Linked DNA regions of Homo sapiens: regions 1 and 2 are each linked to region 3. The links come from fine-mapping of genetic effects on plasma protein levels. Region 3 holds a variant in brackets. A gene starts in each other region. All regions are shown on their forward strands.

Region 1 (4,352 bases), not on the chromosome of region 3:
TATTCTGATTTAGTTGTTATGGGAATGCATAGATTTTATTAGACTGTACTTTAGACAGGGAAGGAATGTCACACAAGTTGTAGACTGTATTGGCCAGGATTTTTCAGAGAAACAGAACCAATAGGATTCATAGAGGTAGATAAGTGAGTTGCAGTTTATTACAGGAATTGGCTCATGTGGTTATGGAGACTGAGAAACCTCAGTCCAGGCCACCTGCAAGCTGGAGAACCAGGAAAGCCAGTAACATGGCACATTCTGAGTCCAAAGGCCTGAGAACCAGGGAAGCCAATAACATCACTCTCAGTCTGAGGTCAAAAGCCTGAGAACCTAGTGAGGGATGTGGAGGTTGTGGGGGCAGACTGGTACAAGCCCCAGAGGCCAAAGCCAGAGAATCTAAAGTTCTAGTCCAAAGGCAGAAGAAGAAAGATGTCCCAGCTCACTAACAGAGACAGAATCCACCTTTCCTCTGCCTTTTTTTCTATCTGGGCCCTCAACCAATTAGTGGTGCCTGCCCACATTGGGTGAGGGCATCTCCTCCCCACTCAGTGCACTGAGTCAAATGCCAATCTCTTCTGGAAACACCCTCACAGATATACCTAAAAATAATGCTTTACTGGTTCTCTGGGTGTTCCTTAGCCCAGTCAAGTAGACACCTAAAATTAAATGTCTCATAGGCAATGTTCAAAAACCAAAAACAAACAAACAAAAAATTGAGACTTTTTTTCTAGACCAGTGTTTCTCAACTTTAGCTGCACATTTGAAAGACCTGGGAAGCTTTGTAAAAAAAAAAAAAAAAAAAAAAATATATATATATATATATATATATATATATATATATATATATATTTAATACAATATCAGCCCAAATGTCATCTCCACCTCCTCTCTCATCAATTGACCAGAGTTTTGGGGATCTTGTTTCAAGTGGTTCTAATGAAAAGCCTGTGGCGGAACTGCTACCCTACCAGTCAACCAGCATCACTCAAAATCTGGTCCAAGTCCTGGTGTGGTCCTGAAACTGTTGCTTGCTGGTTTAAGACGAGATAAGTACTGAAACTGAGAGTAAGTGTATCTTAATCTGTTCAGGCTACTATAGAAGAATAACATAGACTAAGTGACTCATAAACAACAGAAACTTATTTCTCACAGTTCTAGAGACTGAGAAGTCAGAAATCAAGGCACCAGCAGATTCGTTGACTGGTGAAGGCCCATTTCCTGGTTCATAGATGGCACCTTCTCATTATGTCTTCACTTTGTGGAATGGCAAGGCAATAGGGCCTCTTTTTTAAGGGTGCTGATCCCATTCATGAGGGCTCTATCCTTATAATGAAATCACCTTCAAAAGCCCTACCTCCTAATACTATCACATTTATGATTAGGTTTCAACATATGAATTTTGGGTGGACATAAACATTCAGACCATAACAAAGTGTTTAGAAACTTTTATAGCAGTATGACAAATTAAGTTTATTTGTAATCAAATGTAATAATAAAAACAGATGGATTAGTGAAAAAAAAATAGTTGGCTTACAAAGAAATACATTGAAACCCCTTGAATGAATGATCTAAATAATTAAACATATACATCTCTGGAAGTGAGGATATACCAGGCCCCTTCTTTAAGCTGTTATGTCTTAAAGCTGAAATGTTAACTTCAGTGATAAATTCCTCAGGCAGAGCATTGGCACCTGGCTACAACAGGGTTAATGAGCAGGAGTAGGGTAGGTGGGGTCACAAACCAGGAACACATGCCCTCCAAGTTAGATAGCTTTTTTTCCTCTTTAATTGCCGTTTAAACACACATGCTCTCACATAACACAGAAGGTGAGAGCTGAATGAAGTTTTCTGGGTAATGGCATGAAATGTTTTCCTTATGAGAAGTGGTGTTGAGTTACAGCGTGCAGACGGAGAACGGGGAGGAGAGAAACGGCAGTCTCAATCTGGCCCCCACCTTTTCTTGGGCTTGTAGGAAGGTGGACATGGGCTCCCGGAGACAAGACAAGTGATATGTTGAACTGTTCGGTGGCTGGAATCAACTGCTCCTGGAGTGACCTAAGGCCAGTGTTTATCAGAACTTAGCCAGGGCCAGCCAAGCAGGCACAGATGCTCTGCTATGAAATGCCACGCAGGCAGAGACTGACAAGCGGTAGGAACTGAGCTTTCCCCTTGGACTGCTGCTTCCTGCTGTGTTCAGGGGAGGGGGTCACTTTCTGGCAACTCTGCTGCTGCTGCTGCTGCTGCTGCTACTTCAGCTTCCTCTCCACTCAAGGTAAGCAGGCTAAGGGAGGGCAGGCTGCTAGGGAAAGCTTTGTACCATGAACAGGATCCGAAAGTTTTTCCGAGGAAGTGGGCGAGTCTTGGCATTTATCTTTGTAGCTTCTGTCATCTGGCTCCTCTTTGACATGGCAGCTCTCCGCCTCTCATTCAGTGAGATCAACACTCGGGTCATCAAGGAAGACATTGTGAGGAGGGAGCGGATAGGATTCAGAGTTCAGCCAGACCAAGGAAAAATTTTTTACAGCAGCATAAAAGAGATGAAACCTCCCCTAAGGGGACATGGGAAAGGGGCATGGGGCAAAGAGAATGTTAGAAAAACTGAGGAGAGTGTGCTCAAGGTTGAGGTGGACTTGGACCAAACCCAGAGGGAAAGAAAAATGCAGAATGCCCTGGGAAGGGGCAAGGTTGTGCCGTTGTGGCATCCTGCACATCTGCAGACCCTCCCTGTGACTCCTAACAAGCAGAAGACAGACGGGAGAGGCACCAAACCTGAAGCCTCCTCTCACCAGGGGACACCAAAGCAAACGACAGCTCAGGGGGCTCCAAAGACCTCATTCATAGCAGCAAAAGGAACTCAGGTAGTCAAAATATCAGTACACATGGGACGTGTCAGTTTAAAACAGGAGCCCCGGAAGAGTCATAGTCCCAGCAGTGACACATCAAAACTAGCAGCTGAAAGGGACTTGAATGTGACCATCAGTCTTAGTACTGATAGACCAAAGCAGCGATCACAGGCAGTAGCAAACGAGAGGGCACACCCTGCCAGCACAGCAGTGCCGAAGTCTGGGGAAGCCATGGCCTTAAACAAAACTAAGACTCAGAGCAAAGAAGTCAATGCAAATAAACACAAAGCCAATACGAGTCTTCCTTTTCCTAAGTTCACTGTCAATTCAAATCGCTTAAGGAAGCAATCTATTAATGAGACACCTTTGGGAAGTTTGTCAAAGGATGATGGAGCTAGAGGGGCTCATGGGAAGAAACTCAATTTCTCTGAAAGCCATCTTGTGATTATAACCAAAGAGGAAGAGCAAAAGGCAGACCCCAAAGAGGTCTCTAATTCTAAAACCAAAACAATATTTCCTAAAGTATTGGGTAAAAGCCAAAGTAAACACATTTCCAGGAATAGAAGTGAGATGTCTTCCTCTTCACTTGCTCCACATAGAGTGCCACTGTCCCAAACTAACCATGCTTTAACTGGAGGGCTAGAGCCAGCAAAAATCAACATAACTGCCAAAGCCCCCTCTACAGAATACAACCAGAGTCATATAAAAGCCCTTTTACCTGAAGACAGTGGAACGCACCAGGTGTTAAGAATTGATGTGACACTTTCTCCAAGGGACCCCAAAGCTCCAGGGCAGTTTGGGCGTCCTGTAGTTGTCCCCCATGGAAAGGAGAAGGAGGCAGAAAGAAGATGGAAAGAAGGAAACTTCAATGTCTACCTTAGCGATTTGATCCCAGTGGATAGAGCCATTGAAGACACCAGACCTGCTGGGTAAGACCTATTTCTCTTCTCTTTCCTCAACCCCAAGTGCTTTGGCTGTTATGTAAAGAGGATTTATTGCTAGATAATTCTGTGTGATTTTTGGTCACCTAGAGAATTAAAGAAACATTAATCATTGGATATCATTCAAATATTTCACCAGCTACAGAGACAAAAATTCTCTTATTAGCAGTTGCAGAGTTCTTGTTCTCTGAGACTTTGGTCCCTACCATTAGCTCATGTTCAATTTTCTTCCCTCTGTTGAAAACCTATTAAAATGATTAGATGAACTCAGTTCATAATAACGTGTATATAAATGGTAGAGCTTAAAGTGTAATTCCATTAGAATAGTGACAATGAAGTGAATTCCCAATTTTGGAACTTTTCATTATTAGCAAGTTTGTCAGGAATATATTTGGGAAAGAAGCACACAGAAGGACTCTTCTAGGCCTCCCTGGAATCATATCTTAACCAGCAGAATTCTGCCTAATCATAAGTAATGATAAGCAGGATAGCAAGAGAAGTGACTTTACTCCCTAAAATTTAATCTCCTTTATAGGTGGAGATGGTAGATATTTCAGGAGATCAGTTACAT
Region 2 (4,000 bases), not on the chromosome of region 3:
ATGAATTAATGCATGTAAAACACTTAGTACAATGTCTGTTGTGTAATAAATACTCAATAAACACGAGCTATTCTATTGCTATCAGAGGGTTCTTTTGGTTTAAGCAGGGGCAGTATTTGGTACAGGTCAATTACATGGCCTTTGCCTTTAGATCCAATGTTCAATTTACAGGAAATACCCAGGGCTGAGGAACAAGTTAAACACAGAACCAGGATGCAGTTGACAAACTTCATATACTGGGAAATTATTGACAAAGGGTCCGGTTTCTTTAATAAATAGATTGCAAGAAAGAAAATGAAAAAAACATTGAAGAGAGAACCTATAAAGAGAAACTTAAACCCGTTGTGATGTATTGATCTATTTGGATCTTGATTTCAAAAAAGTATTTTAAAACATTTATTACATGTATGAGACAACTGGAAATTTAAATACTGATGGCATAATGGTGATATCAAAGAATTTTTGTTAATTTGTTTGTGTTAAAAAAAAGAGAGTCCTTATCCTTTAAAGGCATATACTGAAACATTGACAGATGACATGATGTGATGTCTGAGATGAAGGTGCGCAGGGGCAGGAGACACCACGGTGGTCAGTGCTGGGTGATGAGGACATAGGAATTTATTAAACAATTCTGTCTATTTTTGTGTATGTTCAATATTCTCCAAAACAAAACATTTTTAACATGATAGGTGCTTTGGAGACTTCCAGAGGTAGGTTTTAGTTCTGCTGTGTTGCTGTGTGAGCCTGGATAAGTGTCTCTCCCTCTCTGTGACTCCTCCTCTGAAGTCTCAAGGGGCTGCTGTGAGTCTAGAAGATGTGTTGGGAACCCCCTTCCCCACGGCCCAGCCCAGGACAGAAGCTTGATACGTGAAAGTTCCATTTACAGTTTCAGATGGAGCAGAGGACCAGGGCACGGTCAGGGTGACAGATGGGTGGGGGTCTTGGGGGAAAACAAATCTCATAAACCTTGGCAAGCTCAAGGTCAGGATGGGGAAGCCCTTAAGGTGGGAGGAGTGGGCAAGACAGACTCTGAGTGTGGAGCCACTGGACAGCATGTGGTCCAAGTGAGGCCCAGGGGCAGGAATTTGTTCAAAGTCACGCCGCAAGTTGGTCCTTGCAGTGGGAGAGCCCAGGTCTCCTGCTCACCATCGACTATTCCAAAAATGAGATGCAAAGTGCCTTGTATGTGAATTATCTCGACTTAAATCCCAAAACAACTCCGCTTACATAGATGCTATCATGATTCCCATTTTGTAGACAAAGACACCAGGTGGCTCCAGGTCCCAGAGCAAGTGGCTGCTTTGGGATTGGAATCCAGAGCTGTAGGATTCTGTAGGATTCTGCCCTGGGAACCACCTCACTACAGCTCAGTTTTTTCTCCAGCCCCTCTTATGACCACCCCTTCGCCACCATGTCCTGTGTTGTTCTCAAACCTGGGGGCAGATAGTTCTGCGCCACTGAAGTATCAGGGATGTCGGTCCCCGTGTAATCACAACAGAAGAGACCTCAGTGGCCAGAAGGAAAAACTTCCTGCTGGCCTATTGCGGCGAGGAAATGTTTTTGGAAACTTCAGACCCAGGGAGCTTGAGCAGGAAAGAGGCCATTGTTGTTCCCATGGAAGACCCTGGAGATACGGCCAGTCCCTGGGCTGTGGGAGCTGGGGCATTTTCTCCATCTGTTGTCCGAAGAAGGGTTTCCAGAAATCACGCCCAGCTCCAAAGATGCAGGTCTAGAATTGTAGGATTTATAGGATTTCTGCACTTAGAAAGGGCCTAGGCCTTCTAGGCCAGTGAGACCTCTGTCAGAAGTGGCCACTGTGACATGGGGCTGGAGGCTCATCATAACTGGCATCTCCAGGATCTCCCAGCCCCACTGAGCCCTGCTTTTGAGCATGGGGGTGAGAAGATGCATTGAGGACAAGCGGCCACCGAGGCGACACATCACAGTGTGTTGGGAGCTGGGCCCGAGGGAGGCAGGTGGCTGAGATCACACAGCAGGGTCAGGTGGGTCCACAGTTCCTGCCACCCATTCCTGCTCCACCTGCCCCATGTCCCTGTCCCACACCCCTTCCTGGGGGTTGCAATGGGTGCAGAAGCCATCCCCAGATGAACTTGACCCAAGAGCCAGCTGGGATTCTGGGTCCAGCAGTGACATCCTCCATTGTAGAAATCCCTCCAGCTGGGACCTACGAGAGTGCTGCTTGTGTGTGGGGAGGGAGTCAGGGGCACCAGTATGAAATTAGTTAAGCCTCTGTTCCACTCCTCTCGTTCCTCACAGATGCACCAAAGGCTGGAGCAGAGGACCAGGGCACGGTCAGGGTGACAGATGGGTGGGGGTCTTGGGGGAAAACAAATCTCATAAACCTTGTCCTATAAAATAAGGACACTGTTGTCCTTATTTTATAGGTGAGACTCAACAATTGGCCAAGGTCTAGGGTTGCAGAACGTGAGGGCGGGAAGAACAAGCCTGATTTCCGAAGGCTCCTGGATAGGATGCCGAAAGCTCCTCTCTGGCCGCTGGAGCCAAGGACTCAGCCAGGCTTGGCTTGCACACCACCGGCGTGGCATGCACACCACCTGGTCCTGGCTGGCAAGAACCACCCAAACCTAAGTGTTCTGAGGCCAGGCCAGCACCCCCTGCACAGCTCCAGGCACACATCAGAGAGCCAGCCCCCACTGACTGACTGAGGACACGTGCCAGTGGTCCGCCAGGACAGTACTTTACAGTTTACAACACCCCGTCGCGTTCCATTGCCTCACCTGATCCAGGGAGGCAAGGGTTAATGGTTATGCAGTGTGGATGGGGAAACTGAGGCTCCAAGCAGCATTGAGACGCCTCCTCACCCAGCCCGGTCTGCCTGTTGCTCTCCAAATCAGGACTTAGGGATTCAGCTCCCACCGGGTCCTGACCCCCAATGCCCCGGGGCCCCTGAGTGGCGGCTGCGGTGACTCTGATACTCACCCTCGGCCATGGTCGGGCGGGGGCGGTGGCTCCTTCCACTGGCGGCGAGACCCTCCAAGTGCGACCACTGGCGGCTGGCACTGCCGAGGCGGAGAGCGGCGCTAACTTATAGCCCGCTTTGGGGCGGGCCGGGGGCGGGGCCCCGCGGGAAGGCGGCGACCTGGGAGGCCACCCATTGCCCAGTCCCGGGCCCACGCCGCCAGCGCTGGGGCTCACCCAGGGGACCGGAGCCCGAGGGAGGGACGGCGGCCGGACGAGGGCGCCCCCTGGGGGAGCGGACAGGGACACACAACTAGCCCAGGATACAGACACACCTGGACCCACAGACTCAGACCTTGGAGAACAGACACCTGGACACACACACTCAGATACAGACACACGCAGCACCCTCATAGAAACACACAACGGAACCGGGGTGCACCTGGACACACAGATGTGGACTCTTAGGTCAGATCTGGGATCAAGAACACCTCCCCACCCCCAACACACACACACACACACACACACACACACGCACACACTCACACACATACTCAGATATACATACACAGAGAGCAGACGCAGACACACCAAGACAGGGCTGTGGAGATACACACACAAACACAGATACACTCCCACAGATACACCAAACACGGCTGGCCACGCAGACACAGTGACATGGATACAAATTCAGATTCGAATGGCAGACACACACCAGGACATAGATACAGCCTGACACAGCCAGGTAGCCTTGACCGCGAGCCACACACAGCTGTGGACACAGATGAGCAGGTGTCCAGAGGCACCTGGCACACACACAGACCTCCTAGACACCAATGCCACTGTCAGATGTGGACGCAAAATCAGAGAGGGCACCCACAGACACACAAAGATGTGGCTACTCAGAGGTAGACACACATGCAGGCATGGACTCAGGTACAGACATGCAGACACACCTGCAAAAACAGACACACCCATGTCCCTTCCTGTAGCAAAACCCAGATAATCCTCCGATCTCACCCATCCTTGTATCTGTCTAATCAGCCATCCATCTAATCAG
Region 3 (4,000 bases):
TTAAGAAATGGGCTTTGGAGTGCCTCGAATTTGGCCTCCACTTTTCTTTTCTACTGTCTTACCTGGTCTTAGGCAGGTCGGGTGACCATCTGGAGTCGGAGTTTCTCTCATTTGTAAAGCGGGGGTGATATTTTTCTCACAGGGCTGCTTCAAGGGTTAACAAAGTTAATGTCTAGGAAGGACATAGCATAGCACCTTCACCTGGTTGCAAGCCCCTGGAGTCACATGGCAACAGCTGTGGAACCAGGTAAATGACTTGACTTACATGTTACACGCTCTTAGTTGTTCGATTTGTAAATGGGAAGAGTGTGTGACCCAAATTAGTCGTTTCCAGATATTTCCTGGTAAATGGTTGTTGAATCATAAAACTAGAAAGATGGGAAAGAAAGGGAGGAACCCCCCTTACTTCGAAGAAGTGTTGTTGATGTGAAGGACAGGACTTTTTGAGACACTCTCATCCTAAGAAACAGCTGATATCTACTAGGAAAAAACATGACATTTGAAGTTTCTTCCTAAGAGATGTGAGGTTTTGACAGAAGTGCCAGGAAGCCAGAGGTGTGTGAGTAGTGGGCCAATCTCGCGTGAAGGCTGTGGGACGGGGCAGGAGAGGGGCAGCCAGCATTTCCTGAGCGCCAGCTAATGGCGGGGACCTGGCACCTTTGCTCTGTGACTCTCCAGCTGTATGGTGACATGAGGCTGGCGTTTTCTTTGGTTTCATACGTGAGGAAGCTGAGGCTTGGTGATGTCCTGTGCATGGCTCGGACTCCAGAGCTACTCAGAGGCAGAGGCCGTCTGTAAACACCTTCAGGTGGTTGGAGGCAGGGTGCTGCAGCCAATGCTGATCACTCACAAGCCAAGGCTTTATTGTAAGGGCTAAATAAAATAACATATGCCTAGCATTTATACAGCACGGGGCTTTTTAGGAAATAGTGAGACGACCATGGAGAGGTGGAGGAAGAGAGAAGGGAAAGAAGAAAAAGAAAAAAAAAGCCTTAAAGAGTTTCTTAAGAGAACTATATATTACAAAGTCCTTGGAGTTTTTTTTCCCTGGTTAGACATAAGTTTACATGAAACGTTAAACGGCTTAAAGTAGCCACATCTCCTTCCTTATGTCTTCTCACAGCCACTTGTGAGTTTCTTATCAAGATACAGAATTATGGCCAAGTGCGGTAGCTCACACGTGTAATCCCAGCACTTTGAGAGACTGAGGTGGAAGGATCATGTGTGCTCAGGAGTTTCAGACCAACCTAGGCAATATGGTAAAACCCTGTCTCTACAAAAAAATACAAAAATTAGCTGGGCATGGTGGCATATTCCAATAGTTCCAGGCACTCGGGAGGCTGAGACAGGAGGATTGCTTGAGCCCAAGAGGTCAAGACTGCAGTGAGCTGTGATCGAGCCACTGCACTACAGCCTGGGCCACAGAGCAAGATCCTGTCTCAAAAAATAAAATAAAATAAAATAAATTCTGCAACAAGTCACAATTCCTTGCTCAGAAATCTCTACAGGTGTGCTTCTTTGTTAAGAAATGGAGGAAACATGAATTTCATCCTGACTTCTGAGTCTTGTAGAGACCAGATCTGACTCCTGCAGCCTTCTGCCCACAGAGCTGGCAGGCGGGGGAATGTGCGCAGAGTGAGGAGGAGCTGATCTGACATTCCGAACAGTGGAGACTGCTGCCTATTTGGCCGCACCACTGTCCTTCTGCATGGAAAAGTCACAGTAAATAATGGACTCTCTACCTGTGAGTCGATTTTACTGAGCTGCCTTTTTAAATATATGTGTAGAAAGGGCGATCTCTGTGTGTCATTTGCACATGTACATACACATGTACACACGTGCACACGTGGTCACTCATGTACACATGTGTGTGCACCAGTGCACCAGACCAGATGCACCCACCCAATTCCACGCTCCTCAGCCCCTTGCTTTCCTCTGCAGACAGCCAGTTCAGCTACAGTTATGCCAGATTGCCTGCACTCTGATCTTTACCATCACCAGACTCTCAGCTTGAGCTCATGCCTGAGAAATCCACTTTCTGGGAGGAAGGCAGAAGAAACTGCCAAGGCAGGACTGAAGACTTGACCTCCACCTGTAGTGGGGTCAGGTCACCAGAGGCTGGCTGACTCCCCAGGATTTCTCAGCAGAGTATTACACAAATACCCCTTCCTTAAAGATTAGCAACCACTTAAAGACACAAAGTGTGCAGGACTGTACCCATGGCCGAGAGCGGCGGGATTAAGAGGGCAACTGAGTTGTTCTTCCCATCCCTCCTCCTCTGTGCTGAGTCACCTTCTGCTTGGAATTCTGACAGGGACCCGTTGGGCTTCTGGAAGGGAGGGACAGCAGAGGATCCACCCTCTGTGTGTCCTGGGGGAGATTACTTATCTCTGGCCTCCCTGAAGCAGGGCCTGGGCTTCTGGAATCTTTGAGGCTGACACCCTGCCAGCCCTGGGGATGAGAG[G/A]GAATGGCCGTGTCTGTCTGCAGAGCCTGAGGAGGAGCTGAGCACAGCCTCCAGAGTTCTCTTCAGTTGATCGCTTAGGTGGACAAAGGCCACAGAAATGGATTTAAACTCCTCAGCCCTTTCTTTGCATGTTTGTTCTCATTTGAAGTCAGAAGTGATATGTCCTACACCTCAAGAACGTGTGAAATGCACATACAATAACCCCATTTCAGGAAGCCAAGTCCAGCTTAACAGTCAAAACATTTCCTTCAGTCTTTAGTCCTTCACTTTGCCGAACTCCCTTTTACACCGGCAGCAACAGTTTAACCTGTTGCTTCTGTAAGAGTGTGCTACTGGGAAAACCACATCTAAAACACGTGTGCAGTTACATCAGCTAGAGCACATGCTAAACAGTTGATCAAAGGCTCTTGCCTTGTGGCCCACGCTGCAGACACTCTGACGACTGCCGAGCTCCGCAGCCCCATGTCGTCCCTTCCGCACTGCCTGCTGTGCCTCTCCTCTCCATGTGGCAGGGAACACAGCCAGTCATCACCATGTGGCTCTGCCCGGCGCTGCCCCAGCATGTCCTGACAGGGCCTAGATATGGAAAGGTGGCTCTCCATGCACACACCCCAAGCCCCTCCTGCCCGCCGTGTGACCCACACTCTTATGGGCAGCCCAGTTATTTTGTAGCATTTCCCTTCCTTATCATTTTGGCCCAGTGATCCAGCACAAATCTCCCTTATTAGAATAAAATTTGGAATGACAAAATTAAATTTCATTTTTCACTTATATTGAGGACCTCACACTCTTCACCCCTGCCACGATCCCTGACAAGAGCCTTCCTATCTAATCATTGTTCCTCCAGCCCTCTTAGTTTTCTTCAGCCTTTCTTGATTGCCTGAATGTCCCTTTCCCTTCTCCTTTTAAAGCATGAACCAAGCTTTCTTACCCCGTTCTCATTATCATTTTTGCATTTTCTTCTTTGCATATGATTCTCCTTAAATTATAAAACTTGGGGGTAATTTCTAGAGGTGCCATCATAGTGCTTCTGTCTACTCAGTGTCTTTAGAATCAGCAAATATCATTTTTACAAAAAAGTAGTATTTCTTCCAAAAAAGAGTAAGCAAGAAGGTTACAACACTGGGAAAATATCCCTAAGCCTGTTCTTCAACCTGTTGAATGTTTTCCCCTAAATTGTTATATGGAGATCCTGGACCCGGAAGTTGGCTGACATGAAACAGGCCTAGCAGGGCAGCTGAGGAAATGCTCCAACCTCAGGATCCAGGAAGATTGCACATGGCACCAAAACAATCATTTAAAAGCTAATCCTGGCCAGGCACAGTGGCTCACGCCTGTAATCCCAGCACTTTGGGAGGCCGAGGTGGGCTGATCACAAGGTCAAGAGATCGAGACCATCCTGACCAACATGGTGAAACCCCATCTCTACCAAAAGTACAAATATTAGCTGGGCATGGTGGTGCGCGCCTGTAGTCCCAGCTACCCGGGAGGCTGAGGCAGGAGAATCACTTGAACCCGGGAGGAGGAGGTTGCAGT

Alleles and levels. Positions count from the first base shown, and alleles are read on the strand shown. Strength reflects both the effect of a copy and how common the allele is.
In carriers of allele A in region 3, the plasma level of the protein whose gene starts at base 1,938 in region 1 tends to be lower than with G alone (moderate association).
As copies of A replace G in region 3, the plasma level of the protein whose gene starts at base 3,043 in region 2 goes up (weak association).

The links. PIP is the posterior inclusion probability: the model's chance that the variant is causal. Protein levels are from antibody-based Olink assays in UK Biobank. Linkage for the fine-mapping came from a reference panel and not from the study's own genotypes, which makes the PIPs less certain.
Region 1: GALNT5 starts here. The variant in region 3 is fine-mapped to the plasma level of the GALNT5 protein (UK Biobank, PIP above 0.99).
Region 2: TGM2 starts here. The variant in region 3 is fine-mapped to the plasma level of the TGM2 protein (UK Biobank, PIP 0.94).

Annotation. Positions count from the first base shown.
Region 1 is chr2:157,255,768-157,260,119 of GRCh38, forward strand. It overlaps GALNT5 (polypeptide N-acetylgalactosaminyltransferase 5), which reads left to right and starts at 1,938. Exons shown (of 10, transcript NM_014568.3): 1 at 1,938-3,769. The coding sequence starts at 2,316.
Region 2 is chr20:38,162,228-38,166,227 of GRCh38, forward strand. It overlaps TGM2 (transglutaminase 2), which reads right to left and starts at 3,043. Exons shown (of 13, transcript NM_004613.4): 1 at 2,962-3,043. The coding sequence starts at 2,971. RefSeq lists a silencer at 2,896-3,335.
Region 3 is chr7:50,357,820-50,361,819 of GRCh38, forward strand. All of the region lies in intron 3 of IKZF1 (IKAROS family zinc finger 1), which reads left to right. Among named protein-coding and RNA genes, the nearest start is that of IKZF1, 55 kb to the left of the region's middle. RefSeq lists enhancers at 2,432-2,951, 2,952-3,469. The variant G/A (reference allele first, on the strand shown) is at 2,465.